5 separate regions of the Homo sapiens genome follow, and regions 1, 2, 4 and 5 are each reported to be linked to region 3. Evidence: microRNA targets listed by miRTarBase, many of them from high-throughput screens and not tested one by one. Region 3 holds a microRNA gene; each other region holds the end of a gene's coding sequence.
Evidence for each region. The annotated mature microRNA hsa-miR-433-3p reads AUCAUGAUGGGCUCCUCGGUGU and lies in region 3 at 2,769-2,790, opposite strand. An mRNA with a match to its seed (bases 2 to 7 or 8) in the 3' UTR can be bound and repressed. Matches are read on the target gene's strand: a 7mer-m8 pairs with bases 2 to 8, a 7mer-A1 pairs with bases 2 to 7 and ends in A, and an 8mer does both.

Region 1: miRTarBase lists STARD7 as a target of hsa-miR-433-3p. Seed matches in the 3' UTR shown: 7mer-m8 at 4,280-4,286.
Region 2: miRTarBase lists MTMR9 as a target of hsa-miR-433-3p. Seed matches in the 3' UTR shown: 7mer-m8 at 318-324.
Region 4: the mRNA of BRWD1 is a reported target of hsa-miR-433-3p. Seed matches in the 3' UTR shown: 7mer-m8 at 1,501-1,507 and 7mer-A1 at 4,972-4,978.
Region 5: miRTarBase lists FGF20 as a target of hsa-miR-433-3p. Seed matches in the 3' UTR shown: 7mer-m8 at 1,614-1,620.

What each region holds. Positions count from the first base shown.
Region 1 is chr2:96,181,984-96,187,859 of GRCh38, forward strand. STARD7 (StAR related lipid transfer domain containing 7) reads right to left here. Exons shown (of 8, transcript NM_020151.4): 7 at 5,234-5,318; 8 at 2,876-4,931. The coding sequence ends at 4,747. Among named protein-coding and RNA genes, the nearest start is that of STARD7-AS1, 23 kb to the right of the region's middle.
Region 2 is chr8:11,322,072-11,327,071 of GRCh38, reverse strand. It overlaps MTMR9 (myotubularin related protein 9), which reads right to left. Exons shown (of 10, transcript NM_015458.4): 10 at 1-4,447. The coding sequence ends at 4,284. MTMR9-AS1 (MTMR9 antisense RNA 1) reads left to right here and starts at 1,644. Exons shown (of 2, transcript NR_189628.1): 1 at 1,644-1,756.
Region 3 is chr14:100,878,596-100,884,738 of GRCh38, reverse strand. MIR433 (microRNA 433) reads right to left here and starts at 2,853; the gene lies at 2,761-2,853. RTL1 (retrotransposon Gag like 1) reads left to right here. Exons shown (of 4, transcript NM_001134888.3): 4 at 1-4,986. The coding sequence ends at 4,027. MIR431 (microRNA 431) reads right to left here and starts at 3,732; the gene lies at 3,619-3,732. It overlaps MIR127 (microRNA 127), which reads right to left and starts at 1,760; the gene lies at 1,664-1,760. It also overlaps MIR432 and MIR136.
Region 4 is chr21:39,191,478-39,197,620 of GRCh38, reverse strand. BRWD1 (bromodomain and WD repeat domain containing 1) reads left to right here. Exons shown (of 41, transcript NM_033656.4): 41 at 206-6,143. The coding sequence ends at 1,362. Among named protein-coding and RNA genes, the nearest start is that of PSMG1, 11 kb to the right of the region's middle.
Region 5 is chr8:16,988,363-16,994,505 of GRCh38, reverse strand. It overlaps FGF20 (fibroblast growth factor 20), which reads left to right. Exons shown (of 3, transcript NM_019851.3): 3 at 1,189-2,325. The coding sequence ends at 1,434. Among named protein-coding and RNA genes, the nearest start is that of FGF20, 11 kb to the left of the region's middle.

The DNA of each region.
Region 1 (5,876 bases), not on the chromosome of region 3:
CCACACAACAAAAACTGCAAGGCCTATAGAGAAATGGGTTTAGGTGTGCAATACTCAAATCTTTGTGACACATAAAAAGGTACCAGTTTCAAATATGTCAATGGTTAAGAAATAAAGCAGTCTACCTTGACCTGCAATTTGCAGGCAGAAACACACTGGACAGCCCACCCAGCTCCCACGCGTACCACCCTGCATGAAGAGGAAGAGAACAAAAGATAAGACAAAGTGAGAGAAAACATAGAGAAAAAGAAGAAAGATTGGGCTGGGCGCAGTGGCTCACGCCTGTAATCCCAGCACTTTGGGAGGCCAAGATGGGCAGATCACGAGGTCAGGAGATCAAGACCATCCTGGCTAACACGGTGAAACCCCAACTCTACTAAAAATACAAAAAATTAGCCAAGCGTGGTGGCAGGCACCTGTAGTCCCAGCTACTTGGGAGGCTGAGGCAGGAGAATGGCGTGAACCCGGGAGGTGGAGCTTGCAGTGAGCTGAGATTGCGACACTGCACTCCAGCCTGGGCAACAGAGCAAGACACTCCATCTAAAAAAAAAAAAAAAAGAGCTATAAAATTTGCCGGGCACGGTGGCTCACACCTGTAATCCCAGCACTTTGGGAGGCCAAGGCAGGTGTATCACCTGAGGTTGGGAGTTCAAGACCAGCCTGACCAACATGGAGAAACCCCGTCTCTACTAAAAACACAAAATTAGCCAGGGTGGTGGCGCATGCCTGTAATCCCAGCTACTCAGGGGTCTGAGGCAGGAGAATCGCTTGAACCCGGGAGGCGGAGGTTGTGGTGAGCCGAGATTGTGCCATTGCACTTCAGCTTGGGCAACAACAGCAAAACTCTGTCTCAAAAAAAAAAAAAAAAAAAGCTATAAAATTTTAGCCGGGCACAGTGGCTCATGCCTGTAATCCCAGCACTTTGGGAGGCTCAGGCGGGCGGATCACGAGGTCAGGAGTTTGAGACTGGCCAACATAGTAAAAACCCACCTCTACTAAAAATACAAAAAATTGGCAGGGCGTGGTGGCAGGCACCTGTAATCCAAACTACTTGGGAGGCTGAGGCAGAATAGCTTGAACCCAGGAGGCAGAGGTTGCAGTGAGCTGAAATCGAGCCACTGTACTCCAGCCCGGTCAACAGTCCGAGACTCTGTCTCGGGAAAAAAAAAAAAAAAAAGCTTTAAAATTTTATCACCAGTGTAGTTTTGTGTATCTAACACCACAGTTGACTGTGGTGGTAGACCAGCATCGCAAGGGATCCCTGGTGTTGCTCTGGTTTGTTGTTTGGTTTTTCGAGTTTCGCTCGTTGCCCAGGCTGGAGTGCAATGGTGTGATCTTGGCTCACTGAAACCTCTGCCTCCCGGGTTCAAGCAAATCTCTCGCCTCAGCCTCCTGAGTAGCTGGGATTACAGGTACCCACCACTGTGTCCAGCTAATTTTTTTGTATTTTTAGTAGAGACGGGGTTTCACCATATTGCCCTGGTTGGTCTCAACCTCCTGACCTCGGGCGATCCGCCTGCCTCGGCTTCCCAAAGTGTCAGGATTACAGGTGTGAGCCACCCTGCCTGGTCTATGTGGTTTTTTTTTTTTCTTTAAGACAGAGTCTTGCTCTGTCACCTGGGCTGGAGTGCAGTGTCGTGATCTTGGCTCACCGCAACCTCTGCCTCCTGGGTTCAAGTGATTCTCCTGCCTCAGCCTCCTAAGTAGCTGGGATTACAGGCATGCACAACCACACCCAGCTAATTTTGTATTTTTAGAAGAGACGGGGTTTCTCTATGTTGGTCAGGCTGGTCTTGAACTCCCGATCTCAGGTGATCCACCAGCCTCGGCCCCCGAAAGTTACAGGCATGAGTCACTGCGCCCGGCCATTTCTAAATCAATCTTCCATTTCTAAAATTTTGTCACTTAAAAATGTTATAGGCCGGGCACGGTGGCTCACGCCTGTAATCCCAACACTTTGGGAGGCCAAGGTGGGTGGATCACTTAAGGCCAGGAGTTCGAGACCAGCCTGGCTAACATGGTGAAAGCCCATCTCTACTAAAAATACAAAAATTAGCCAGGTTTGGTGGCACACACCTGTAGTCCCAGATACTAGGGAGGCTGAGACAGGAGAATTGCTCGAACCCGGGAGGTAGAGGTTGCAGTGAGCCGAGGTCTCGTCACTGGACTCCAGCCTAGGCGAGAGTGAGACTCCGTCTCAAAAAAAAAAAAATTAGAGAGGTAAAACACAAATGAGGTTGAAAGAGAATAAAGAGCAGAGTGTGAGGCAGAGCCAGGATGGCCGATGGAAGGGCTGCGGCTTGCAAGCATGAGATGGGGCGTGCGGTTCTCTGGAATCAGATGGTACACCACACAGGGACGTGTGCCTTGTGTGTTCCTATGCAGCTCAGTTCAACTGGGTGTGCTTTTGTGTTCACCTAGTGCTTCCCACAGGCAAAATTACACATAAACTCATGTTATGCTCAGAGCATGCCAGCAGGACTGCCCCTCCGCCAAGAGCGCTGACTTGACCCTCTCCTCAACCTCAACCCTAGACCTCAGGCCTGCTTCTGTCCCTCCTGATTTCTACCGTCTGCTAAGCTCTAGCACTGCTCCCTCCAAAGTGATCTTTTTTTAAAGGGAAAGGATATGGGTCAGTATATCAAGCTAGGGAAGTGGACATAGGTGGTTTATTTTCAGTTGCCAAGCAGGTCACTTGGAAAGGGCTCGTGGTCTAGGCAAACTGTGTCAGCCACTATCTACCAAGAATGAACAAGCCCTGCCACTTCCACCTCCCAACTCTCAGAGTAAAATTCTTTTCAACTTTGTGATCAGAAAGAAATGGTAAGTCCAATATGCAAGATTTTTCCACCACCATTTGTCCAAAGACAAACACTTTTTTTTGTACCAATCTTTATGTATTTATTCACACATTTGATAAAAATGTCACAGTTAGGAGTGAAATCATTACAATGACATGAGTAACTGTACAGACAGACCCCAAGTGCAGAATCAAATTGCCCTAAGTCAGAACATGGAGCAACCGCAACTCCTTCGCACTTGTGCATGTGTGTGCGCTCGCAGACGCACACACACACACACATATTCTCTCTCTCTCTTATGCACACATCCATCCACATCCCAACAATTGCAGGTGCTAAGTTTGGACATAACCCAGGGACTCTTCCCTGACTTCTGTCAGGTCCTGGAAAGAAGAAGTAATAAATGAAAAGCAGCTGGGACTGCTCGATGCATCTCTCCTCTTCCAACAATGACGCGGAGAAGGCAAGACATACACTGGGGCAGCTACTTCCTTGGCACAAAAATGAACAGGCAACAAGAAGGTCAAGGAAGTGTTTAAGTTAGTCTCAGGTTTAAACCACTTTTCAACACCACAAAACAGTAGCAAGCAGGAAAACAAAAACAAAAACAAAAACAAAAACTCTGGCCCTCAAGACTCCAGAAAAAAGGGAAGGAGGAGGATTTAAAACTTGATCCCTATTATTCTAACAAATTGCAGCATGACCATAAGCAAAACCAGCTCGGTCAAACTGACAGCATCAGATTGTGACCTTATCTGAACAGTGTAGTTCACTTTTATTTTGGCTCTGAAGAGAGGAAGAAAAACTTTTTAGAGGAACTTAATGGTAACATAAACCAAATCTCCACTGTATTAGTATTTGAGACAAGATTACATCTATGCATTCACACAGCTTGTCTGTAGATCTGAGAGCTCCAAGGGAGTGGCCCAGCCCCCATTCCTCTGACTTTAGCCTTCTGAAAAGAACAAGTCAAACCTGAAATATGAAAAATAATACCTGAATCAAAATGGTGTTTTCTATACAATCGGACTAGGGTAGAATCCTGCTCAATTCCTCAACTCCTATTTGACACAAAAGTTAAAAAATTTTTAAACTAAATTTAAATGTGATGTTTTGAGCATCAAAAAGCTACTATCTAAAAGGATTAGTCTCCCAGTGTTCTTGGTAAATGGGGAAGGTTAGGAAGGAGGCAATGATCCAATGAATATAGAAGAACTGGCCGATTCACAGGAAACTTGCTTTGGATAAGGTGAGTCAATGGGTGATATTGTGCAGGCAGGGAGGGAAATTTCTTTGTACAAATTCATGTCCCTGGCCAGGCATGGCCCAGGAGTTCAAGACCAGCCTGGGAAACAGAGTGAAACTCCATCTCTACTTAAAAAAAAAAAAAATTAATAATAACTTCATGTCTCTAGAGATAAAAGCAAGGTGCGGACAAGGCACTTAACATAGCCAAGTATCGTTCACACCCATTCACATCATGATTGTTACCAAGAGCACTCCCAGTAGCCCCTCATTTGAGAGACTCAACTGGCCAACTATACTTTCCAGGTGGACCTGGAGAACTGAAGGAAATCCAAAGCGCTGCACAATCGATGGTGGGATTTGGAATGTCAGCAGAGGAAACTACTCAGAGAAGCAAATGGAGGTCATCCCCTTCTGGCCTGAGGTGAGAGGTTTGTTCCAGATTAGCTCAGTGAGATACCGAATTTCAAAACAGTTGGCCTGAGAATATGACAACACTCCCACAAATGTAGCCTTCTTCTGTTTTGATAAGAGCAATAAGGGCTCTGAATGAAATGGGACATCAGTTATTGAATTATCTTGCACTGGAAGTTACAGCAGATGCCTTCTAATACATGTGGCATGTCCCCCTTCTACAGCAGAGTGATAACGGACTGAGACAGGGCTAGAAGCACCTTGTCCCTTCTTATCCCAAAGCCTGTCAAGCATACTCAATCCGAGCAGGGCCACAGCTGCCCTCGTTCTTTCGCTCAGAGGACTGGCTGGTGGCCTTGGCTTCACTACTCATTTCCAGAGGCTTAGCTGAGATGTAGTCCTTTACTTTAATCTCCATATTCTTGGCTTTCAGAGTGGCCATGTGCAGCTTCTCCAGGAAATCTGGCATGCCTGTCAGGAGACGAGAATCAGGTTAAGCTGACATACAAACCAACAGTAGGCTCAAAATGAGAAGACCCTATTTCTTTGATGGTAGGGAACTAGTTCTTCCTTATAAAGATCACAACCTGACTAGCCTGTGAATAAGAGCTGCCTCCCGGAATGTGTTCCCAAAGCATGGGTTGTGAAAACTCTGTCTCAGAAAAAAAAAAAAAAGAAGAACCAGAAGAGACGTTTTATTTCCCCATTAGGAAATAGAGAAAAACAAAATGCTCAACCCAGGTTCCAGGCCCTGTATACTTGCCCTTACTTACCACTGGAAACCATCCAACTAACACAGTAGCGAGGAAACACCGTTTGGGGATTGTCACTGTATGTTAGTAAGTAGTCAAAGCCATTCTGGAAAAGAAAAACAGCAAAAATGAAGATCCCTGAATCACCAACCACAACCTCCATATCCAGTACCATAGAATAACTATGATCTGATTCTGGAGCAGGGAGTGTCATTTCTTTTTTCACCCTGTGCAGAAAAGAGTTAACACTGAAGGCCTGAGAGACTACTATCTATAGAAAGGTCTCCTTGCAATGTTGACCCTTGGCCAACTTCGCTCCCAGTCAACAGTTAGCTGATATGGGTGGCTCCCTGTGCATAGACTATGCAAACAACGTGGTTTATGCTGAACACAGGCTTTGCTTTGCAGGGTTTGGAATTCTGGTATGTGCTAAGCAGACGGTACTAAGTGACCAGCTCCCAATAAAAATTTTGGGTGTTAGGCCAGGCATGGTGGCTCATGCCTACAATCCCAGCACTTTGGGAGGCCGAGGCAGGCGGATCACCTGAGGTCAAGAGTTCAAGACAAGCCTGGCCAACATGGTGAAACCCCATCTCTACCAAAAATACAAAAATTAACCGGCCATACTGGCACACACCTGTAGTCCCAGCTACTCGGGAGGCTG
Region 2 (5,000 bases), not on the chromosome of region 3:
AAAGAAAACTGATACCATAAGAAAGTTATAGTATCAGTATATATTTTATCATCTGAGAATAAATGTAAATGGATAAATGAGTCTTTTTTTTTTTTTTTTTTTGAGATGGAGTCTTGCCCTTTCGCCCAGGCTGGAGTGCAGTGGTGCGATCTCGGCTCACTGCAAGCTCTGCCTCCCGGGTTCACACCATTCTCCTGCCTCAGCCTCCTGAGTAGCTGGGACTACAGGCGCCCGCCACCACACCTGGCTAATTTTTTGTATTTTTAGTAGACATGGGTTTTCACCGTGTTAGCCAGGATGGTCTCGATCTCCTGACCTCATGATCCGCCCGCCTTGGCCTCCCAAAGTGCTGGGATTACAGGCGTAAGCCACCATGCCCAGCCTATAATGTTTTTAAAGATGATGGGTAACATAAAAATACTATGTGGTAATAACTTAGAATACTAGGTCTGGAGGAGGAGAACAGGCCTAGCCCATGTGAAAGAATAAGCAGTAGCTAATCTATGTGGTCTTGAGGTATAGTATAAACCTGGAAAGTTCTCTGAACCTCTTCAGTTCTGAGGGTTGCCCAATTAAAACAACAACAACAACAACAACAACAAAACTTTATCAGATGTACTGAATGACTTCATTCTCTGATAAATTTCAAAGCTTCCAGAACAGAGGATCAACTATTGTAACTATTGCCCATTTCTGGTCCAGGAAATACCTTTCTGATAAAGAGTGCTCATAAAACGCTTGTGTTGTTTTCATTCATTCTATCTAGAAGTGGGCAAATACCAAAACCTTTATCCCAGATTAAGGTCGGATAATAAGTGAACCTGATGACCTACTTTAGAATGACAATTCAAACAGCTATCCCTGAAACCAGACAACTACACGAGTTATGCCTTGAAGCAGATCTTTCAAAGTGCAACGAAACATTACTCCTGTTTTTCACTTGAGGAGACTAAATTATGGTCATATCTTTTCCATGATACTGATTTTTTATTTAACATAAACCAAATACTGACTGAATCAAAGACTAAAACCCCACAAAATTTCATCCTTTAAAACAAAAAGCAATAAAATCCCACCCCTAAATCAGGCCTCAAAGTTCAAAGAAATGTTTAAAAATCCCCCATATGGGATCTGACATGAATGTCTATTATTGTCCCCCCCAAGTCTTCTCAAAAATCACTTTAAAATCTTGCTTTGAGACCCTAAGTTTTCTTGGAAATAAAATACATTTATAGATTGTTTTAAACCTACTGAATTTTACTATTTCTGCTTGCTTTCTTCCCATTTAATAAAATCAAAATAAAAAATTTTGACCAAATAAATATTTATTGAAAGGTCCTGCCACCAAAAAAGCTTCAGGTTTTTAAAAACATATAATCAAACAACAATGTTCTTCTGATTAAAAAAAAAAAAAGTACTTATTTAAATCTGAGGATCCTTATATGTTCAATAGAGGATTGTGGTGATCCTTTGTATTTTAAAAATATTATTTGTGGGGCCTACTTTACGTATCTCCTGTATAAAAACCAGCTTTCACTCCACATGAATAGAGAAGATGCTGAATACGCAGGAATCTGATTATCCCTCACGTGATTATTACCGGCCCCTCTGGGGCAATCTGCTTGCTCACTCATTCTGCCACCATTCTCTTCATTCAAGTGTTTAACAGCACATTTATCAAAGGCAGCTCTCCGATGCAATGTTTAACGAGTGTCTTCTCAGGAGTGTATCCGTGTCATTTATTCTTCTCATCCAGGTAAGCACGAACTTCACAGTACTACTAAAAATCTTCTTCAAATTATATTGATAATGGACTTATTTCTGACCGTTTTTGGATTTGGGAAAACTCTAATATTTGGATTACCAAATAACACTTCTGTAGATGCACTGATACCGAAGTTTATTTTTACAACCTGTAAACAGATCTGAAGTTTGAACAATCCCTAATTATAAATTAATACTAAAATGCAAACTTGCCAAAACAGTATAGATTGTTGTCTCAGTGAGACAGAGAAAACGAAATGCGAATACCGTGTTATGACTGTACTCTGGCTCGCACAGCAAATGTGCATCAGGAAGATGGGTCTACCTTGATGGTACATCATCCCTCCATGACCAGACCTAATACAAACTCCCTCACAAGTTTCCACCCATGGAAGCCCTATGGCCGATCAACAGAAGCAGTGGGAGTCACTTCTGGCTTTTTCTTTACTTAGACACAGGGTCTCGCTCTGTTGCTCAGGCTGGAGTGGACTGATGCGATCATAGCTCACTGCAGCCTCAACCTCCTAGGCTCAAGGGATCCTTCTGCCTCAGCTTTCCTAGTGGCTGGGACTATAGGCACACACCACCACACCAGGCTAATGGGAGTCACTTCTAAAGAAAACTCTCTAGATGGTTTTCCTTATATGCCTGTTAGCTGAGAAGAAAAGCCTCCTTCATATACAATCTTGAGACAAAAAGAGAAGAAAACAAAAAGCTCAGCTGTATTAACAGACATAGCAAGCAATTCTGAGGGAGCACAAAAAAGTGAGGCTGTTTCCTTTTTTTTTTTTTTTTTTTAACAAAACTAAGATGGACATTTCACACAACGCAGAGCTACGAGAACATCTCTTATGCTCCTTGCCATGGGATTTTAATGCCCCAAGGTTCATAACTACAGCAAAGAAAGTAAGTCAAAAATAAACTGAGCTTAAAGAAGGTGGCAGGCCAATTTTCCCAAAAAGACTGTGGACTGTGGGCTGCTGTGTAGCCTTTGCTACAAGGCTGAGGAAGCAGAAGAAAGATGAATTGGGCAATTGGTGATGAAAAGTATTTGCCATTTTCAAAGGCTTCTCAGTGTGGCCATAGATTTTGCTAGTCAATTTTTAAAAAATTATATTTTTAGCTCAACACACAGCTCTAAAGCAGGGTTCAGTGTAGTGTGTTCTCTACCGAAATGGTTATATACAGATGGTATGGAAATGGTTTTAAAGATTACTCATAAACTATCCTTTTAAAGAAAAACTAGACTCGGTCATATTTGTTAAAATGAGCAATGTCACCAAACAGAAATGTAGGTGGGAAATACTGAACCACAAACATTTGGAGTTGCAGGCATAGACTAGCAGAGCATGAATAGTCATCACTGTTTCTATAATACTGAAACACTCAAATCTGTTTCTGAGGTTTAAAACACAGAGCTATATTATATTCATAAACTTCCCCCTCCACTTAAGTTATATTTGCCTAACACATAATGGACAAATCAATAGAGCCAAAGCAAATTTGCAAAAGGCTCAGGTCAACATGAAAATTTTAACCTTAGTATTAGGAAACTCTTAGAATACTTACAAATTAAAAAAACACACAATAAAACACACATACACATATAAACCAGTGCAATAAGAACTTTAGACAAGGGCAGTGCATCTCTGGTTTAAGAAAACCTATTTGTAGCTTGATTATAATAAATTAACTCTATTCTAGATGATGGTTTAATTTTACAAGCAGCATTTGAAACACATTGTATATGTATGCTCAAAACCTGAAAACCAATTCACCAGTAACAATTCTCAATCAGTAACAAATTCCTACTTTAATTGTATATTGCACATACTTTTAGTGTCTACGTTAAAATAAATTTAACTCTTCTTAATGTAAATATCGGAGGACCATACCTGTTGCCCTTGTAGAAATAATTTACCTTGAATAACAGATTTTCCTTTCTTGACAAACAAGAATGAGAATAGATTTCAGCTTCGTTAGTCCAAAACTATTTTAAAGAAAATGGCTATTTTATGTGGCGAAGACACTGGAAATGGATTGTTAAACACAAAATCCTTGGTTTATCCATTGTTGCCATTTTGAAAAACATTTCTATGGTCAGAGTGTTTAAAAGTCTGACCCTTTTTTTAAACCACCAAATAGTCCCTAGAGAGATTAGCTGTCTCCTTGACTGCTCTAGAATGCTGTTTGGAGAGTGGACACAGAGAAAAAGCTTTGGATAAAATGGCATGAAACACAAATGGCATTAAATAGGTCATCTATTTCACGTAAAAATAAAATGACTAGCACCTCCTTCCGGCTCCCAAAGTGACAGGCCCTAACAGGCCACATGAAACATGGTTTATGATAGTAAGTTTCATTATTCATACAGTATTGAGAAATCCATTACATTAGGGGGGTCCCACATCTAAAGCCTTCACTTCAAGGCTACCGTGTAAAAGTGAACTGAAGGGCACAAGGAGAGAACGGCGGACACAGGCCCAAGAAGGTCCTTGCGAAGGGTGCGAGGAGACCTTTCAGGGACTCTCCTGCATCCCGTCCTCTGTTTCCAGTTCTGCCAACTGCCTTCGAAGGATATTGACTTTTGCTTGTAATTCTTTATTATATTCAATGATGTTAACCATTTCTTCATATGCTTCATCCAAATACTTAGAGGATCTATTCCAACGTAGGAAAATACCTATTGAATCCAGGAATGGAAAACAGAAGCAAGAAAGGTATATACAATGGATTAAAATTACATTTGTGGATAAGATGTAATTTATGTATTATACATTCTTTTTTCTTTTGTTGCCACAACTCACATCTGTATTTTATTATACTCTAAAATATACAGGAATCTTGAGGTACTGAAAAGGATGCAATTGAATACAATATTTGAGAAGTCACTACTTGTATGTACATGCTCATTGATTCTTCAGAAATATCCCACAAAATTATCAAATAGATCCAAATACCATTTTATGATATATTCAGGAAAACAAGATGATAATTTGCAATGTCATAAACTTTCCAATTTCACAATATAAATCACTTATTTTTATAATTATAGAATATTGCTCAGACATGTAAGATCCCTTAAATGTGTGAAGCCATTTTCACCTGAAAAGTGACAACTACAGTAAAAGCAGAACCACATATGTTGTTATTTGAAAGCCTGAACTGTAGCCCACGTGCTTACATGCCTCTCTCCCTGTTACTTGAGAGGCAATCTTTCAATTCTGCAGGCAATT
Region 3 (6,143 bases):
TCCATCATCAAAACAAATGGAGTCCTCCGAGGGCTCATCCAACACCACCGAGGCGACGTCGGGCAGTGGAGTGCGGGGAGAGGCAGGGCCAGCCAGCGGCCCAGCCCAGGAAAAGAAGGAGCCCCCCAGTGGCCCACTCCAGGAAATGGAAGAGCTGCCCACTGATCTACTCCAAGACATGGAGGAGCCATCCAGTGGCCCACGTAAGGAAATAGAGGATCCACCCAATGACCTACTCCAAGACCTGGAGGAGTCATGCAACGGTTCACACCAGGCAAGGGGGGATCCACTCAGTGGAGCATCTGATAGGATGAAAGAAGCATCAGTCAACCCATCGGGAGCCCGAGAAGAACAAGAGGCTCACACTGACCTGAAGGAATCGGGAAGGGAGGAGACTCCTCAAGAGCAAAACCAGACCGAGCACTCAACCGCAGAACTTATGGCCATGGTGAGGTCCATCATCTCGCTGTACTTCCGAATGCAAGACCTCAAAGAGCAACAGAGAGTAGCAGAAGAGATCTTGATCAAAGGGATCAATGCAGGCCAACTGCCCGCCCCAAAGCACTTCTCTGGCGATCGCAGAGAATTCCACGAGTTCATCGTACTCTGCCAACTGACCTTACAGAGCTACCCAAGAATGTTCTATAACGACCGTCTGAGAGTTGGCTATGTCATCAATCACCTGTCCGGCTTGGCATTAGAATGGGCCAAAGCTCTACTGCAGGAAAACAGCCCCCTGATCGGAGACTTCCCAGCCTTCCTGGAGGCCATGTCCGAAGTGTTTGAGTACCGCCAGGCACTGCGTGTGGCAGAAGAGGCCATGTTCACCATCAGGCAGGGCGGCCGCTCTGCCACTGAGTACATCGATGAGTTCCAGAGCCTGGTACCCATCTTGGGCTGGCCAGATGAAGTCCTGCAGGCCCACTTGTGCCAGGGGCTCAACGAGGAGATCAGGCACTATCTATTCCGGGTCCCTCAGCCGGATTCCCTAGACAGTCTGATTGTGCTCATCCTGCAAATAGAAGAGAAGCTGGCAGAGAGAAGAGCTATGCTCAGGCTGCCCCCCGAGGCCCGCCCCCGGAACCTGACCTGGATCGACTCACCTGCTCCAGAGAGGTGGATGGTCAGCAGCTGGTTGCCCAGCGAAGTCCATCCGGACATCAATCGCGCCCACCTCTTCCTGCTGCTCATGGTGAGAGTGAACCCCTACCACAGCGTCGCGGTCCAGGCCCTGGTGGATTCGGGAGCTGACGGCAACTTCATGGATGAGAAGTTCGCCCAAGAGCACTACGTCGAGCTCTACGAGAAGCCGTACCCACAGCCGGTCCAATCCGTGGACGGCTCGCTGATTGGCAACGAGCCTGTCTGGCTCTACACGGAGCCCCTGGTGTGTATCCACCAGAACCACCAGGAGTCCATCGAATTTGACATCGTACCTTCACCGAACTTCTCTGTGGTCCTAGGCATCCGCTGGCTCCGAGTCCACGCCCCCGAAGTCGACTGGATCAAAGGCCGCTGCACCTTCCACTCTCCCTACTGCCTGAAGAACTGCTTCCGCCCGCCCCCGCCATGCATTGCCCTAGAGAGGCACGGCATGAGCCTGCTACCCGGACTGCCACACCCATACTCAGACCTGGCCGACGTGTTTAACCCGAAGGAAGCAGATGATGAGACTTCCGACCAGCCAAGCTCAGACGGATCCGATGATCTTTCTGAATCAGAGCCCTCTGAGCTTCAGCAGGCTGGAGACAGTGATCACAGCGAGACCTTTTACGAGTGTCCCTCCACCGCGCCTTGGGAACCTGTGGGTGCCAGGATGCAAGAAAGAGCCAGGCTACAGGAGGAATACTGGGACCTGCAGGACATGCTGACCAACAGACAGGACTACATACAGATGATTCCGGAACTGTTTGACCAGTTACACGGAGCCGAGTGGTTCACAAAACTGGAGCTGCGTGGGACCATTGTGGAGGAAAGCGTGAACGGGCACCGCACCGAAGATGTGTGGAAAGCAGCGTTTGGTTTGGAGCTTGAAGAGATGAAGAGCTACCAGCCGTTTGCGCTCTCCCCAGACCCTATCATACCTCAGAACGTGATTCACTTCATCCTAAAGGACATGCTAGGGTTCTTTGTGCTTTCTTATGGCCAGGAAGTCCTGATCTACTCAATGAGTCAGGAGGAGCACCTCCACCACGTCCGCCAAGTCCTGGTCCGCTTCCGCCATCACAACGTCTACTGCTCCCTGGACAAGAGCCAGTTCCACCGCCAAACCGTGGAATTCCTGGGCTTCGTCGTCACCCCCAAAGGGGTGAAACTGAACAAGAACGTCATGACCATCATAACAGGGTACCCTACCCCTGGCTCCAAGCTATCTCTGCGAAACTTCATCGAATTCGTCTTCCCCTACCGCCACTTCGTGGAGCGCTTCAGCATCATCGCAGAGCCCCTGGTGCGGCAGCTGCTGAGCTCCTACCAGTTCTACTGGGGAGTCGAGGAGCAAGAGGCCTTCGAGTGCCTGAAGAGGGCTTTCCGCAAGGCGCCTCTCCTCCACCACCCCAAGCCCCAGAACCCATTCTACTTGGAAACCGGCGTCACCGGCACGGCCCTGCACGCCTCCCTGATCCAAATCGACGACCAAACCGGCAAGAGAGCCTGCTGCGCTTTCTACTCCCGCAACATCTCCCCTATCGAGGTTGAGTACTCTCAAGCGGAGATGAAGATTCTTCCAATACGGGCTGCCTTCATGGTGTGGTGCCGCTACCTGGAGAACACCGAGGAGCCCATCATGATCCTTCTCAACACAGAGGATCTAGCCTCTCTGAATAATGACAGGCTCACCGTACTTCTCCCCGGGCATTGGGTCTTCTTCTTCTCCCACTTCAACTTTGACGTCATGGAGCTGCCAGAACAAGACGGCGGCCGAGCTCTGCCACCTGTGAGAAACCTCCGGTGGAGGAGAGCCTTCCAGAGGAACACTGCCGCCAGGCAAACCCTGCTGCTGGCCTCAAGGGGATTCCCCAGGGATCCATCGACGGAATCCGGGGAAGAAGAGAATGAAGAACAGGATGAGCTCAATGAACAGATCCTACGGCAAGAGCTGCTGGCCATGATACCCATCGACCAGATCCTCAACAGCTTCCTCGCCCACTTCAGCATGGCCCAGATCAGGGCCGTCATTCTGCACTTCTTCCGAGGCCTCCTGTACTGGAAGAACACCCTAGCCCTGGCAGCCATCCTCGTGCTACTGCGCGTGAGGCAATGCCTCTCGCTGCGGCCGGCACCCGCCATGCGGGTGGCTCGGCCCCAGCCCCAGCGCTCCCTACGACTCATCCTGGATTCGTCCCTCATCGCAGGCAGCAGCATCACGACAGCCATCACCCAGCTGCTCACCCAGATGCCCGCTCTCGTAGGTGCAAACACCATCCCAGCCCAGGAGCTGGCTGAGCTGTTCCTGGGCCCTGGCCGCTGGCAGCGAAATGCTCTGCACTCCCAGGCCCACCGAGGCCTGCAGTTCACCCCTGGCTTCTGGCTGACGCTGTGTGAGTTCTTCGGTGTCAGAGTCACCCCCCAGGAGGGCCACCTCCCTGCCCTGCGTCAGAACCGCTACCTGGAGCTGCACGTCGTTGGTGATGAGGATGTCGTCTTGCGAGAAGCCCTGCAAGACGACCTGCAACGTTACCGTCAGTGTGGCCTGCATGACGGCCTGCAAGACACCTCGCAGGACAAGCAGGACAACGACGTGCAGGAGGCCCCACCCAGCCACACAGCAGCCACCCACCCACCCCGCCCACGCCACCTGATGGATCCCCAGGTCCTGGAATTCCTTGGTAGCCGCCTGCTCCACATCCACAGTGCAGATGGCCAGCTGCACCTGCTCAGCCGGGAGCAGGCAGCCAGGGCCCTGAGCCAGTTCCTGACCCTGATCTACAGGCGGGCCCTGCCCATCCCCGCCTGGGAGAGCCAGCCCAGGGAGCAGGCAAGGCTAGAAGAGCTGCCTGATGAGGACGAAGATGCTAACCTCGACTGAAGACGCCTCCCTGTCTCCAGCAAAGAGTCCCCTCTATTTCTCACCCCAACACCTCCCGACGTCCCCTGGCCTCCCCGCGCCTCAGCCTGCTTCGCTTCCCTTCCTGCCACTCCTGACCCAAGAGGAACCCACTTGTGAAGGGCAACAACTTCTTCAACTCATCAACCAGCAATGCCACCTGTGCTAACGGACTACCCAGTCCTCAGAGACCCAGCGCCAGCCCTGGGCTACGAGTTCTCCGTTCTCCAGGTCCCAAGCCCATGCCCGGGAGTGACATCCATGAGGGAGAAAGCAGTGGTGAGCAGGAAGTGACCCCATGACGCGTGGCCAGATGAAGAAGCAGGCACAGCAGGCGCAGCCAAGCAAGCAGGTGACGGGGCCCCCCACCCGGCCTGGTGATGGCCACCCTGGGACACTGACCTCGGGTGCTCCACTGACTTCTTCTACCTCCACTGCCGGTGCTCCTGCTCCCCTGAGCTCCCGCCCCCGCCCCCCAACCCCCATCCCCCAACCTCCCGACATCTGATGATGTGGTGCCTCCCTCACCCCCATCACACCCTGCAAGCAAACCCACCCCCACCCCCACCACATCTGCTTCAGCTTTTTTGACCCCGCCTTCCTCTTGCCCTGAGCTCTGGACTTACCTGGACAAAGCCGCTCTTTGGGGCATCCGGACGTACCAGTGCCACTTACCAGACTTGCACAGCAAAGAGGGCCCCTGCATGCCTTGGGGCGCCTTTCCCTCCCAACACTGAACACTGGACAGTGCAGGGGTGCAGGGGCCCCTCATACAGGGATGGAGTCCCAGAAGGCACACAGACACCCAGGGGACCATGCCGAGTCACAGAGAGGCTCTGGCCACACCACCGCTTTGCAAGGGGAGTAGACCCTTCCCCACCCCCCGAGCTTTCTCACCCCCCAATCTTTTTGCACTCCTCAAATAAAGCAAACTAAAAGACTGTCTGACTTTGGGGTTTGTTCTAAAAGTGGAGGTGGTGGGAGGATAGGCGGGGGAGGGGACACGCATGGGAGGAGGGAGGGAGTAGGTGGGGTGGACGAGGGGGCAAGTGGACTGGGCAGGAAGGGTGGGGGCAGGAAACGCTCTGCCCTGAAACAGCCCCTGGGGGCCTGGCACATGGGCAGCAGGCCTCCCCCAACCTTCCTGAAGGCGTCCCCACCAAGACTCTGGGCACTTCTTTCTGCCATGAGAAGGCACCCACCCCCACTGAGGCCACCAGGGACGTGCACCCCCCACAGGCTCATGTCAAAGAGAGGACAGAAGAGGTGCCTTAGGGCAGTGGGAGGCGGGGGAGTGGGGGCTGTCTCTCCTAAGGGTTCCAGAAAAGGGAGCCCCGAAACCCAGTTCCCACCTCTGGCCTTGGCCTCCTCGCCATGTGATTAACGAGGTGCGGTCTGAGCCCCACACTGCAGGGTCCACAAGCCCTGGTCTCAAGCAGTCCCTAACCCCCACTCCGAGAGGAAAAGTCCTGGGTCCCATTTCAGAGGGTCATGCTGTCCCCAAAGTGGCAAAATGGCTGTTGTGAGGGTGAGGGTGCACTGCCCTGGGTAGGGGAGCTGCCAGGGGTCCCACAGGGAGTTGGGGAGGTAGGGCAGGTGGCACTCACCCACTCTGAGTTCCCCCTCCACAGTCCAGGACATGCTGACCCCTCTTCCTGGCCATGGGTCACACCTATCCAGGAGTGGCCTCCAACCTCCCAGAGCACCCCCGCCCCACTGCACCCCTCCACAGGTGAGAGCTCTGCGAGGACACAGAGGGGAAGGAGCCGTGGGCCTCTCTCAGCATGACCTTGAACTTCATCTAGGAGGGCAAAAACACTGGAGCTCTGTGCACACGGGCCCCCATGCCAGGACACACCAGCTCTGCCCTCTCTGCCCTGCTGAGGAACCTGCTCCTGAAGACACACCGTGAGACCACCCAACAGATCTCAGGCTCAAAGCTCAGGGGCCCCGCAGGGGTCTGACTAGCCTGAGTTGGAGCCACCCCATCCCCTAGGAAAGCCATTTCCACCTGGCCCCAGAGTTCTCAGCTCCCACATGGAAGAGACCCTACTGTGTCCTCGAGGGGAGGCACGGGAGCATGACAGCCTCCAGACAG
Region 4 (6,143 bases), not on the chromosome of region 3:
TAAGACGAAATAGCCTAACGATGCATTTCTCAGAACGTATCCTTGCTGTTGAGCAACATATGACTATACTAATAGGTGTGTACCATTCCATTCACTGCAATACCCCCTTCAAATTAATACGAATTCTGAACTTGTTTTTAATATTGAACATATAATTCCTTTAGACTTACAAAAGATTAATAGAAATCTGCTCTTTAACTTTTAGATTCTGCATCACAAGACAATGGACTAAGCAGAAAAATTTCCAGGAAAAGGGTCTGTTCCAGTGACTCAGACAGTAGTTTACAGGTGGTTAAGAAATCATCAAAAGCCAGAACAGGTCTCCTGAGGATTACTCGAAGATGTGCAGCTACGGCTGCCAATAAGATCAAGCTCATGAGTGATGTAGAAGATGTCAGTTTAGAAAATGTGCACACTAGAAGCAAAAATGGAAGGAAAAAACCTCTCCATCTTGCTTGTACTACAGCTAAGAAGAAATTGAGTGATTGTGAAGGAAGTGTACATTGTGAAGTACCAAGTGAACAGTATGCCTGTGAAGGCAAGCCACCTGATCCTGACTCCGAAGGTAGTACAAAAGTGCTTAGTCAGGCTCTAAATGGAGACTCAGACTCTGAAGATATGTTGAATTCAGAACACAAGCACAGGCATACCAATATTCACAAAATAGATGCACCTTCTAAAAGAAAAAGTTCCTCTGTTACATCTTCAGGAGAAGATTCAAAAAGTCATATTCCAGGGAGTGAGACTGATAGGACATTTTCTTCAGAGTCAACCTTGGCACAAAAAGCTACTGCAGAGAATAATTTTGAAGTGGAACTGAATTATGGGCTGCGCAGGTGGAATGGCAGAAGACTCAGGACCTATGGAAAGGCTCCTTTTAGTAAGACAAAAGTGATTCATGATTCACAGGAAACAGCAGAGAAGGAAGTAAAAAGGAAGAGATCGCATCCTGAATTGGAAAATGTGAAAATCTCTGAAACAACTGGGAATTCAAAGTTTAGACCTGATACTAGTTCCAAATCATCAGATTTGGGATCTGTAACTGAATCAGATATTGACTGTACTGATAATACAAAAACCAAAAGGAGGAAAACGAAAGGAAAAGCAAAAGTAGTTAGAAAAGGTAAAACTTTTACAGCTAACATATCTAAAACTGTGAGACGTCAAAGACAAAGCAAACGCCCTAGGTTAAGTGTGGATGATAATGACTGGGAGGATTTGGACTATGCAAAATCTAAAAGAGTTCTTCGACGTTCAAAAATAAAAACGAGAAATCAGGGTAGAAGGACTGTGAGATACCATGATGGGGATGATGACAGAAGTTTAGAAAATGTGTTAGATTTCAATGGTTGCACCTTATGACCTTGAGGGAAAGCCAGTTCATTTAAGAGGAAATGGACTGGCATTTATGGTGAAAGCTGGCTGTTAAAATTATTTTTTTGTCTTACAATTCAGGGAATATATTTATATTTTTCTATGAAAAGTTATGAATGTGACTAAATCATGACTGTTATTTTTATTTGCACTTGCTGGTCTTTGTAGCAGCATTCAGCACAGGTGCCAAAATATGCTTCATTTTGGGGGCAGATCTATTTTGACAGTATTTGACTACATATAGCAAGAGTTTGAAATATGTTAAACACTAGACATCCTGGTTATCAAAACCAATGAGCATTACTTTCATGGCAGCAAGTGTCATGCAGTTATTTTCTGAATTTGTCAAAGAGGCAGTAGTTTCTAACCCCTGTTCTATAGTAGTTACAACAATTTCACAACCTATGTTTACAGATTCTTCATAAATACATGCATACTGACACTATAATCATGGGAGGTGTAACCATGATTAGTAGGCGAGGTACCTACCACTTTTTTTTTTTTCTTCCCCTGGCTACTTGAGTAGAATGCATTATACCAGATCTGGTCACTTTCATTGAAATGGTTTCTAATTTTCTTCCCAAGTGCTGTTGGGTTTTTTTCTTCTTAAGGAAAACGTTGTCACTTTTATGTTATAAACTTGAATTTATAAAGTGCTGGTAAATTATTTTTAATGATTTGAGTGCATGTTTTAAACCTCTAGGACCAGAGCATAGTCAGAGCATTTTCTTTTAAATTGTGCACTAACAAAATGCTATATAATCTGTCTTCTGTCCAAGATCTCCTGGTTTCCATTGTAAGGGATTTAACCAAAATCTTGCTCTTCCATAATCTTACTCTGTGAAATAGAGGAATTCGTGTGCCTTAGATTTAGAAGTGTGTTCTTTAATAGAGTGTACAGGGCTAAAAGAGTATTTAAGTTAATATGTAGGTTTCCCCCATCTGTATTCCAATTGTAGAGGTGAGTTTTGTTAAGAGTACAATTGCAAATCTTATCTATATAGGAAAATAGCTAAATGTCATTCTCCATCTCTTTGTTTTAGTTTACTGCTTCCATGTGCAATCCTAAGCATTCTTTGCTGGGGCAACTAAATGTATCTTTATTAGTGACTTCTAGTCCAAATATAAGAAACTGTCATGTTTTGTGGGAAAATAATTTTATAATCCATTTAAAGTGAAAGTTTATCACACAAATAGTACACTTATTTTCTAACCAAATACTTGATAGGTTATGCTACTCCAGTGTAGATGGCCATTCCTAACTTGTTTGTGCCTGAAGATGGACTTGATTCAAATGGTTTACATATTTAGTGGGTAAGGGATATGTTACAGTACCCCACCTGTAAGTTATTTATTAGCCCTAATTGTGTTTGATTTCAGACAAAATTAACCCTTTTCTCCTGTGTATCTTTGAAGTGGCAGATAAGGTGAAGCATCAGACTGGTATCAATATTAGACAATGTTATTTATTAGCCCTAATTGTGTTTGGTTTCAGACAAAACCTTTTCTCCTGTGTATCTTTGAAGTGGCAGACAAGGCGAAGCATCAGACTGGTATTAATGTTAGAGAATGTTCTGAAGTGTTCCTATTTTGTAGTTATCTATTCCATTTGACATAGTAGAAGGTACATTTTCTTTCTACTCTGATGCATGGGGAAGGATGTTTTTGGACATTATCAACTGAGATAGGTGGGAAACCTCCTCTCATTTGTGGCTTAGAGAGCTATCACCATTTCAGAACTATGATGCTTTTCTTCTCAGAACTTGTGTTAAGTAGATAGTAAACAGATTGATTCATGATAATTGTCCTTGACTAAGACTGAAAAGACTAATGGGATGCCTTTTACTTTGCTAATTTTAAAAACTGGTGATAGATGTCAAATCCATTAATTTATTTAAACTCTTCTTAACCTTCTCTTTTATAATCTGTTCTCAGGTTTTAACTCCATGTTTACCATCATTTGCAAAAAGGTACCAAAAAAATCCATAAATAAATATGGAATACATTCATAAGTACATACATTCTTTTGGTATAAAACAATATTTTGACAGTTTAGGCTTCATTAATAGAACTATTCTGATTATTTGGACTGCATTAATTGGTCATTGACTGGCCATCCAATTACCATTTTTTCTTTCAGTCCAAAATAGTTAGACCCTTGCATACAGAAGTGGTATTTTGGTTTTTAATCAGATTTGGTTTCATCAGAAGCAGCAAGAATGGACCTGATGTCTTTAAAAGCATAGCCGACAATGGTAGCTTCTCAAGTTATGAAATAAAACTGAGAGATAATGGAGAAAATAATTTTTATGGGTTTTTTTGGTTATGGTGCTATTCCTAAGGTTAACTTTGAATATGTGACACACACACTCCTAAGTACCTTTAAGGAAAATTAATAAATCATTAATAGTTAAAATGTTTACATTGAGCACTAGAACATGTTTGGCCTTTTTTTTCTACGTTATGCAAAATGCCCAGGGATTTAATGCACAGGTGTACTTTAATGTTTAGGGTCAGTTTGTAGTATTCTTGAGAAAAAGATAAAGGGTTATAATTTGAATGTGAACTGATCCAGAAATAAGTGCTGTACCTTTCCACTGCACTTGAAGTTCAACTTAATGGTGTATGTGAAAAACAAAAACTACTTTGGTTGTGTATGTCCAAAGTCCTATGGTTTTATTCATTTATGGTTTTACAGGCTTTGAAGTACTCAGATTTGATTTTTGCTTTCTTGGAAAGACTCACTTTACCAAGCATATAAAGGAAAAATGATTTCAAACATTGACAAGATAGATGAGTGTTAACAAAGCTTTCTTTTTTCGTGTCCTCCTTATTTAAAAAGGTATACTTACAATGTGAAGTAACTTATGAATAAAAGGAAAAGTTTATCCCATATTCAAATAATTCCTAAGGTCAGCCTCCCTTTTTGTAAGTGGCAAATATCTGATTAAATCATTTCTCAGTTTATTAATCCTTGGAAACAATGATATAGCAGTTACTCACAGCTTGTAAATTACAACAGAAAGGTTCCTTTCAAATAGTAGAGCTGCACCTAAAGAGGAAATTGGGTTTATAAGAAAATGGAGGCAAAGAACTTAAGTTTTAAGAAAAAGCACTTCAAAACAGAAGGGCAAATGGAAAAGGGGAATATAAAACAAACCAATAAAAATACCATCTGAGGGTGTTACTGTCCAAAAGTAAAGAATAAGATGCATCACTAAGCCCTTTGCACTCGTTATGACCTCGTAAGTAAAAATTATCACTTAGAATAAGGGGTGCACACTACATTCCCTCTGTCTTCTAGACTTTTTTTTTTGTAGAAGAATCAGAAAACAATTTACTAACCTCCCTGTTTGATATTAAAAATAGGAAGAATTTTAATATTTTCTGTTAGTACAAGTTGAACTTGATTGTGCCAACTGAAACCCCAGAGGTTTGTATATCAGTAGAATGCAAGAACATTGTTAAAGGTGCTTACGATCTTTTTTGTTTTCCTTTCCACTCCATTGTATCAATTTTTTGAGTAACTTTTAAATGGCTAGAAAATGGTCTTTTTGCTTTGCCCTTTTAAAGCTGAAATAACCAGCTCCATTCTTTTCATGAATAGTAAGTTGATATATTTATTTATCAGGTATCTTGCAGTTGTCACCAAATACTGTAGTTTTCTTATGTTGTATGGAAATTATAGTTCAATTATTTTAATGTGATAGAGTGCAACAAGTCATTGTAGAACTTTTCACCTGTTAATGTTGAAGTTATACCTCTGAATTTCTGCTGTGGATATCAAGGAAATAATAAAGCAGAAACCCCAAGAAATTTGCAACTTAACAGTTTGAGACTGTCTCTTATCCTAGTATTTGGGAAGAGAAGGAATAAATTTGTCAAAACTAGGTGAGAAAATAGAGCATTGTGGGAAAAACTGAGTCCAACTAGATTAGCAAATGTTAATTCCTAGCTCAAACTGTGAATAGTAAGGATTGAAAAGTAAAGTATGTAATGCTAAGGGCTGTGTTGTCTTTTCTTACGATTTTAAGTTTTAAAGGCTGTTAAATTACAGAGATGTTGCCCAAGGATACATGGGGATTCTCAAAAGTAAGAGATTTTTACCTTTTTCATAATCTGCCAAGCTGGTTCCTAATATATTGTTAAATTGGTAGAAAAATATCTTTAAATTGGTGTCTGCTCAAGAATTGCTTTTCTAGATTTGATGGAGGGAGGGGGAGAGTCACATCATTTGGATTCTACCAATCTGCAGGCTCTATCTTTGGCAACATGTAAATAATTAGACTATACATCTGTTTCTCAAGTATGGCAAGACCAATAGTTTGAATTTAATTATCAATGCTATGGTATACTTTCTGGTCATATTTTAGTTATGTCAGTTTTAAGGTAAGTTTTTTCATTTATTAAAGCCCTTAAATGAGATTTTAGACTGCCAAAGAGAAGAGGCAGTCCAATTGACCTAACTGAAATGAGATGACCAGTATATAGAGCCTAGATGGACTGTAGCAGCTCTACCCCTTTGTTTTACAAGGTAAATCATTTTAAAAATTACCTTTTTTGATCAGTGGGTAAAAGTTAAAGGGATCTTTAATTTTTGATATATTCAAGTTAATTTTCTAAATGTGAATCAGTCCTTGGACTGCAACTATATATTCACCTACAAAATCCCAATCAAAAAATTACATGAGCCTGTCAAGCAGATCTTTAGTTTTCCACTTCACATAAGATCGTTAATGTTCTAAATTAATCTATTCATTTAGATGATT
Region 5 (6,143 bases), not on the chromosome of region 3:
ATAAGATTAATAGAATTACAATAGAAAAAACATGCACACAATCTTCATGTGTATTTTGGATTTAAAAAAAGCAACTGTGGTTTATCACTTAGGACAATATACAGTCCATTTTGAAAAGACAATAAATCTTAATCGTAAAAGATCCAGATAAAAAATCGTGGAGAATGTATCATCAAACAGTTAGTAAATTCATAAAGAGAAGATATATGATTTGGAGTGATGATCATGAATTTGGAATTTGGTTCTTAGCAAGATCTTGAAATGCTCCAAGGTGAGAGTAGAGACTTGATAGGTAGAACTCTGGCCTCTAACGATGGAAAAAGATAAACTACAGGTCTGCTTGGTAGTGATGGCGGGAGTAGGGTGATGATATGGGACATGAGAAAATTCAGGATATTTTTTAGGTATTTGAAAATAAAATTGGGAACTGACATTTGACTGAAAGTTCTTTAAAGCAGGGGTCCCCAACCCCTGGGCCATAGACTGGTATTGGTCTGTGGCCTGTTAAAAACTGGGCTGCACAGCAGGAGGTGAGCAGCAGGCAAGTGAGCGAAACTTCATCTGAATTTACATGCTGCTCTCCATTGCTCACATTCCCACCTAAGCTCCGCCTCCTGTGAGATCAGCGGCAGCATTAAATTCTCATAGGAGCATGAACCCTATTGTGAACTGTGCATGCGAGGGATCTGGGTTGCATGCTTCTTATGAGAATCTAATGCCTGATGATGTGTCACTGCATCCGTTCACCCCCAGATGGGACAGTCTAGTTGCAAGAAAACAAGCTCAGGGCTCCCACTGATTCTATATTATGATGAGTTGTGTAATTATTTCATTATATATTACAATGTAATAATAATGGGAATGAAGTACACAATAAATGTAATGCACTTGGATCACCCTGAAACCATCCCGTGTCCCCATCCTGGTCCGTGGAAAAATTGTCTTCCATGAAACTGGTCAGTGGTGCCAAAGAGGTGGGGACTGCAACTTTAAAGTACACTGCCAGATGAAGTCACCTGCACTAAGAATCAGAGATGACATATGAACTAAAACAAAATAAAGCAAAACCAATTTAACCTTTTTCTTTCTTTGACAAGGCAAAGAAATGAAAATATAGAGTTGAAACTTGTAAGGAAATTATCTCAAAGGTATTTTTTTAAAAAATAATAGTTATCTTCTCTCTTTCAGGAGAAACTTACTTCCGAATGCATCTTTAGGGAGCAGTTTGAAGAGAACTGGTATAACACCTATTCATCTAACATATATAAACATGGAGACACTGGCCGCAGGTATTTTGTGGCACTTAACAAAGACGGAACTCCAAGAGATGGCGCCAGGTCCAAGAGGCATCAGAAATTTACACATTTCTTACCTAGACCAGTGGATCCAGAAAGAGTTCCAGAATTGTACAAGGACCTACTGATGTACACTTGAAGTGCGATAGTGACATTATGGAAGAGTCAAACCACAACCATTCTTTCTTGTCATAGTTCCCATCATAAAATAATGACCCAAGGAGACGTTCAAAATATTAAAGTCTATTTTCTACTGAGAGACTGGATTTGGAAAGAATATTGAGAAAAAAAACCAAAAAAAATTTTGACTAGAAATAGATCATGATCACTCTTTATATGTGGATTAAGTTCCCTTAGATACATTGGATTAGTCCTTACCAGTAGACTGAAGCCAAAAATCTGTTAAACTGTGGATAATGGGAACCCTCACATGGTTGCTGCTGGTGCCTCACCTCTCTGGATTATGTTTACTTTAAAATTTATGTTAAAAATAGAGACTTCATGTTGAAGAAATGGATTGACTTAGCCAAGAGCATTGCTACATAAATTCTGAGGACCTTGTAGAATTCACAGGTTATGGCATTATATGTTTTAAGAAAAAAAAAAACTAAACAACACCTGGGTGAAACATGAACTATGAAACATGCCACACCAAGACAGAACACTTTTTAAAAGAATGGACCTATTTATACACTTTCAATTTGAAAATATTTATTATATATATTTATTTATTAAAGAGTTTATTTTTTACTGGGATATGAAGATAATACAAAGAGTAAAAAACAACAAAACTTCCGTTATTGTGCCATTACTTTATTGTGGTGTCTTGCTCTGTAAAGAGGACATTATTATACCACCTTAACCATAGAATCAGATTTTGAATTTCTTTTTAAAATATAGTATAGATTATATTTTTTATGCAGTCAATTGCCTTCTAAATGTAACGTTGGTTTCTTTTGGCCTAGAAAAATGCCTCATTGATTTGTATTAAATTCAACACACATTCAAAAGGGAATTAAACATTTTCATGCAGTGTTTTGGCTTCATTGCTTTTCGGGTGACAGTTCTTTTATTTATATAACATTTAAAAATGACAAAATTCTAAATGCCCTAGAGAAAGACTTTAGTATTTAAAGAACTTCTAATGTTGAAAAGTATTGAACATTACAGCCAACTTATGTTTACTTATTTTCTTAATTCAGTGTGGCAAAGACCATTTCTTTCACCCAATATGATTGTAGGAAGAATAAGTCTTTGTACCACCTCCATTAACAATGGTAAGTCCCCATCTACCTGAGTCGGGTATTCTTTTCATTATATCTCTTATTTAGCCATTTATTCAGCAAACATTTTTTTTTAATTTTCTTTTTTAATTAAATTTTTATTGTGGAGATGGAGTCTTGCTATGTTGCCCAGGCTTGTCTCAAACTCCTGGCCTCAAATGATGTTCCCACCTCAGCCTCCCAAAGTATTGGGATTACAGGCATAAGCCACCATGCCTGGCACAGCACAGGTTCATTAAAGGCTACTATACAGTAGTATAGTATAGTGTCAGGCACTAGGGGAAAATGGGGTGGTCCAGATAGAGGTGGGCCCTACATCATGGAGCTTAATGGCTGGTGGGAAAGACAGATAGTAAACAAGTAAATTAACAAATACCATAATTATGAGTGGTGAGTTATTCTATGAGGAAAACAAGGTTCAGACAGAAAAAAAAAGAAAGAATAAATGTAGGATGGCTCAGAGAAAGCTTTTCTAGGGAGATTAGATTTCTGATGGGCCCTAAAGGTTAAGAAGGGGCTACCCAGGTAAAGAGAAGGATGAGAACCTTCTAGGGGGAGGAAACAATGAGTCTGGGGTTCCTAAGGCAGGAAATAGCTTTGTGGCTGGAGCTTAGTGAGCTATGGGGAGAGTGGCACAGATGAGTTTAGAAAGCTAAGCAGATACAAATTCTGATAGATTTGTAAAAGTTCTTCTAAGGTTTTATTTCCTAGTGCCCAACAGTTGTCAATGCTGCTGCCCTCATGGTTGGGCATGTAGTAATGATAGTGGACCAGATGCCACTCTTTACCAACCTGGAGAGCTGGGTAAGACAAGGATTGCTGGCCTCTACCCCCAGAGTTTCTGATGTGTAGTTCTGGGGTGGGGTCTAAAAATGTGCATCTAGTTTCACCTAGTTTCCTAGGTAATGTTGACCACACTTTGAGAGCCACTAGTCTGGAACAGTGTTTCTAACATTTAATGTACATATGAATCACATGGGGATTCTTATTAGAGGATGATCTGGGATTTTGCCTTTCTACAACATCCCAGTGATGCTTGATGTTCCTAGATCTTGAAGCACACTTTGAATGACAAGACTATTGCTTTAATGCTATCTTATTTCTATATTCGTTCACCATCTTCTTACTTACATAAATTAATGCTGATGTGTATGGTGAGAGGAGAGAGTTCAACATATGACTTTAATAAAGCGACACTTGAATGTTCGTGTATGTGAAGAGTTGGGTGTGCACTCGGGTGTGTATATGGGAGAGATAGAGAAGGAAATGTTTTAGCTCAAAACCTCTTGGTTTTATGAATATAAAAAATAGTAAAAATAGTTTAGCAGTAGTACTTAAATAATCTTCAAAATAACCCCATTTTTACTTTTATTTATAAACTAAAAAGTAAAAAACTACTTTTGGTTCAATGTTTGACATCCATATTTGAAGTACATGCCCTAAAGCAAGCATTAAGGAAATATTTTAAGTCTTTTGCAAAGTGGTTCTGGTGTCTAAAACTTGTAACTATGAGGGAAATTGTACACATTTAAAAAGACAGTACACTGATCAAAGATGTCCCCAAATAAACGTTGTTTTGCAATCAAAATTTTTTTGAGATATAACAGGAATATATTTCTAACATTTTTATTGTGACAGACATTTGTAGTAATTTGAGGAATGAAATGTGATTAAAACAATGGTTTTATAAACTTGTAGAAAATTAGAAAGTCACTGTATCTTTTAATCTTATTATGTTTATATACTGGCATCCATTCCTATGTCAGAAAAATAATTTGCCTTTGCTGGACTGACACTATTTGAAGAAATGATTATTGGGTATCCAGAGGGATTTTACTTGATACTGCTAAATGGAAGTTATATGTCAACATAGTAATTAACTCATACATGGAGAGATAAGAATAATTTGGTTTATTATCAAATCGATATTTTGAAACCAATTTATTATATTCTCAGGATGCTAGTGAGAAACTTCATCTGTTATCCTTTTCGTCTCCTTATTTTCTTCATTTAAAAATGTTCTATTAGTAATTATAAATTAACTTTCAGTTTTTATTCTTTTATATTGGAATATTAACTACCAATTGCCAAACTCCTCCACATTTTCTGCAATGATAAGAGAAATCTAAGCATATGGGGGTGGAGAAAACTCTTGGTCTGTCGATTCCAAAGGGTTTGGTTTTTAGACAAATGCAATGTCAAAACAAGGAATTTATTTTATTTATTTATTTTTTATTTTACTTTAAGTTCTAGGATACGTGTGCAAAACATGTAGGTTTGTTATGTAGGTATACATGTGCCGTGGTTTGCTGCACCTACCAACTTGTTTTCTAGGTTTTAAGCCCCACATGCATTAGGTATTTGTCTTAATGCTCTTCCTCCCCTGCCCCCCATCCCCCAACAGGCCCCAGTGTGTGATGTTCCCCTCCCTGTGTCCATGTGTTCTCATTGTTCAACTTCCACTTATGAGTGAGAACATGCAGTGTTTGGTTTTCTGTTCCTGTGTTACAAAACAAGGAATTTATGCCACTAACCCTTTGTGAGATTATAGATCTATCATAAACTTAATGTATAAAAGTAAGAAAGCCATTCAGGCTGTCACTTATGTTCATAATGCAGTTATGGCAATTTCCAGCTTTGTGAATTAGCTAATCATCAGAAATATCTCATATATAATAAAAGCCTGGCTTCAATAGAAAAGTTGTTAAGCCTACAGATACAATGAGTCCTCACTTAATGTTACTGATATATTCTTGGAAACAGTGATACTAAGCAAAAGGACATATAATGAAACCAGTTTTACTGTGGGATAATTGATATAACAAAAGGTACATTCCTATGGCATGTGTCTGATCACAAAAATATCACCAACCCTCTGACTAATGTAGAAATCAAAATAAACTTTTAGAGATGCATCTCTAAGCTTAACGTTTTTGTTGGGGAAGCAAGAATAGCAATGTGAGTCTTTCGCATGTCCAAAGAACAAAGAGAAGGTTAGAAATTTTACAAAAAGGAGAAATGTTCTGTATCATTTTGAAAGAAAGTTCAATTGACACTAGTAAAATGTGGGGAGCTGGCAAGTTCTGATTGGTGAGTGACTGCAGTGGATAGAACTAGTCTTAGGGTCCTAACAGGTTGTTTCTGTAGATATTAGATGAAACTGGTCTCCAGTTATAGCAGGCAGTTTCAGCAGCCAGGCTTGCAGAGAATTACATTCTTGGGGCAATGCTATATGCCCTGAGTGCTCTCTTCCCTCTGGCTTCTTGACTCTGTTTTAGTTGGTTATGACATGAATGACTCAGTTTATATGCTTAACTTTCACACTAATGACCCAAAACACTTTTAATGTTGAACATTGAAATAAATGTCAGTCACATGTACATTTAAGAAAGATTAATAAAAACATAATGTGATGATAATTATTTACTCAATATTTGGTGAATCAGTAAATGACTGTGATTATGGTGGTAGTAGGTTAAATCAAGGAATCAATGTTTGAAAAGCAAAAATTTTTAGGATCACCTCTTACCACCGTGCAATTTACAAACAAATAATGAATGTGGCG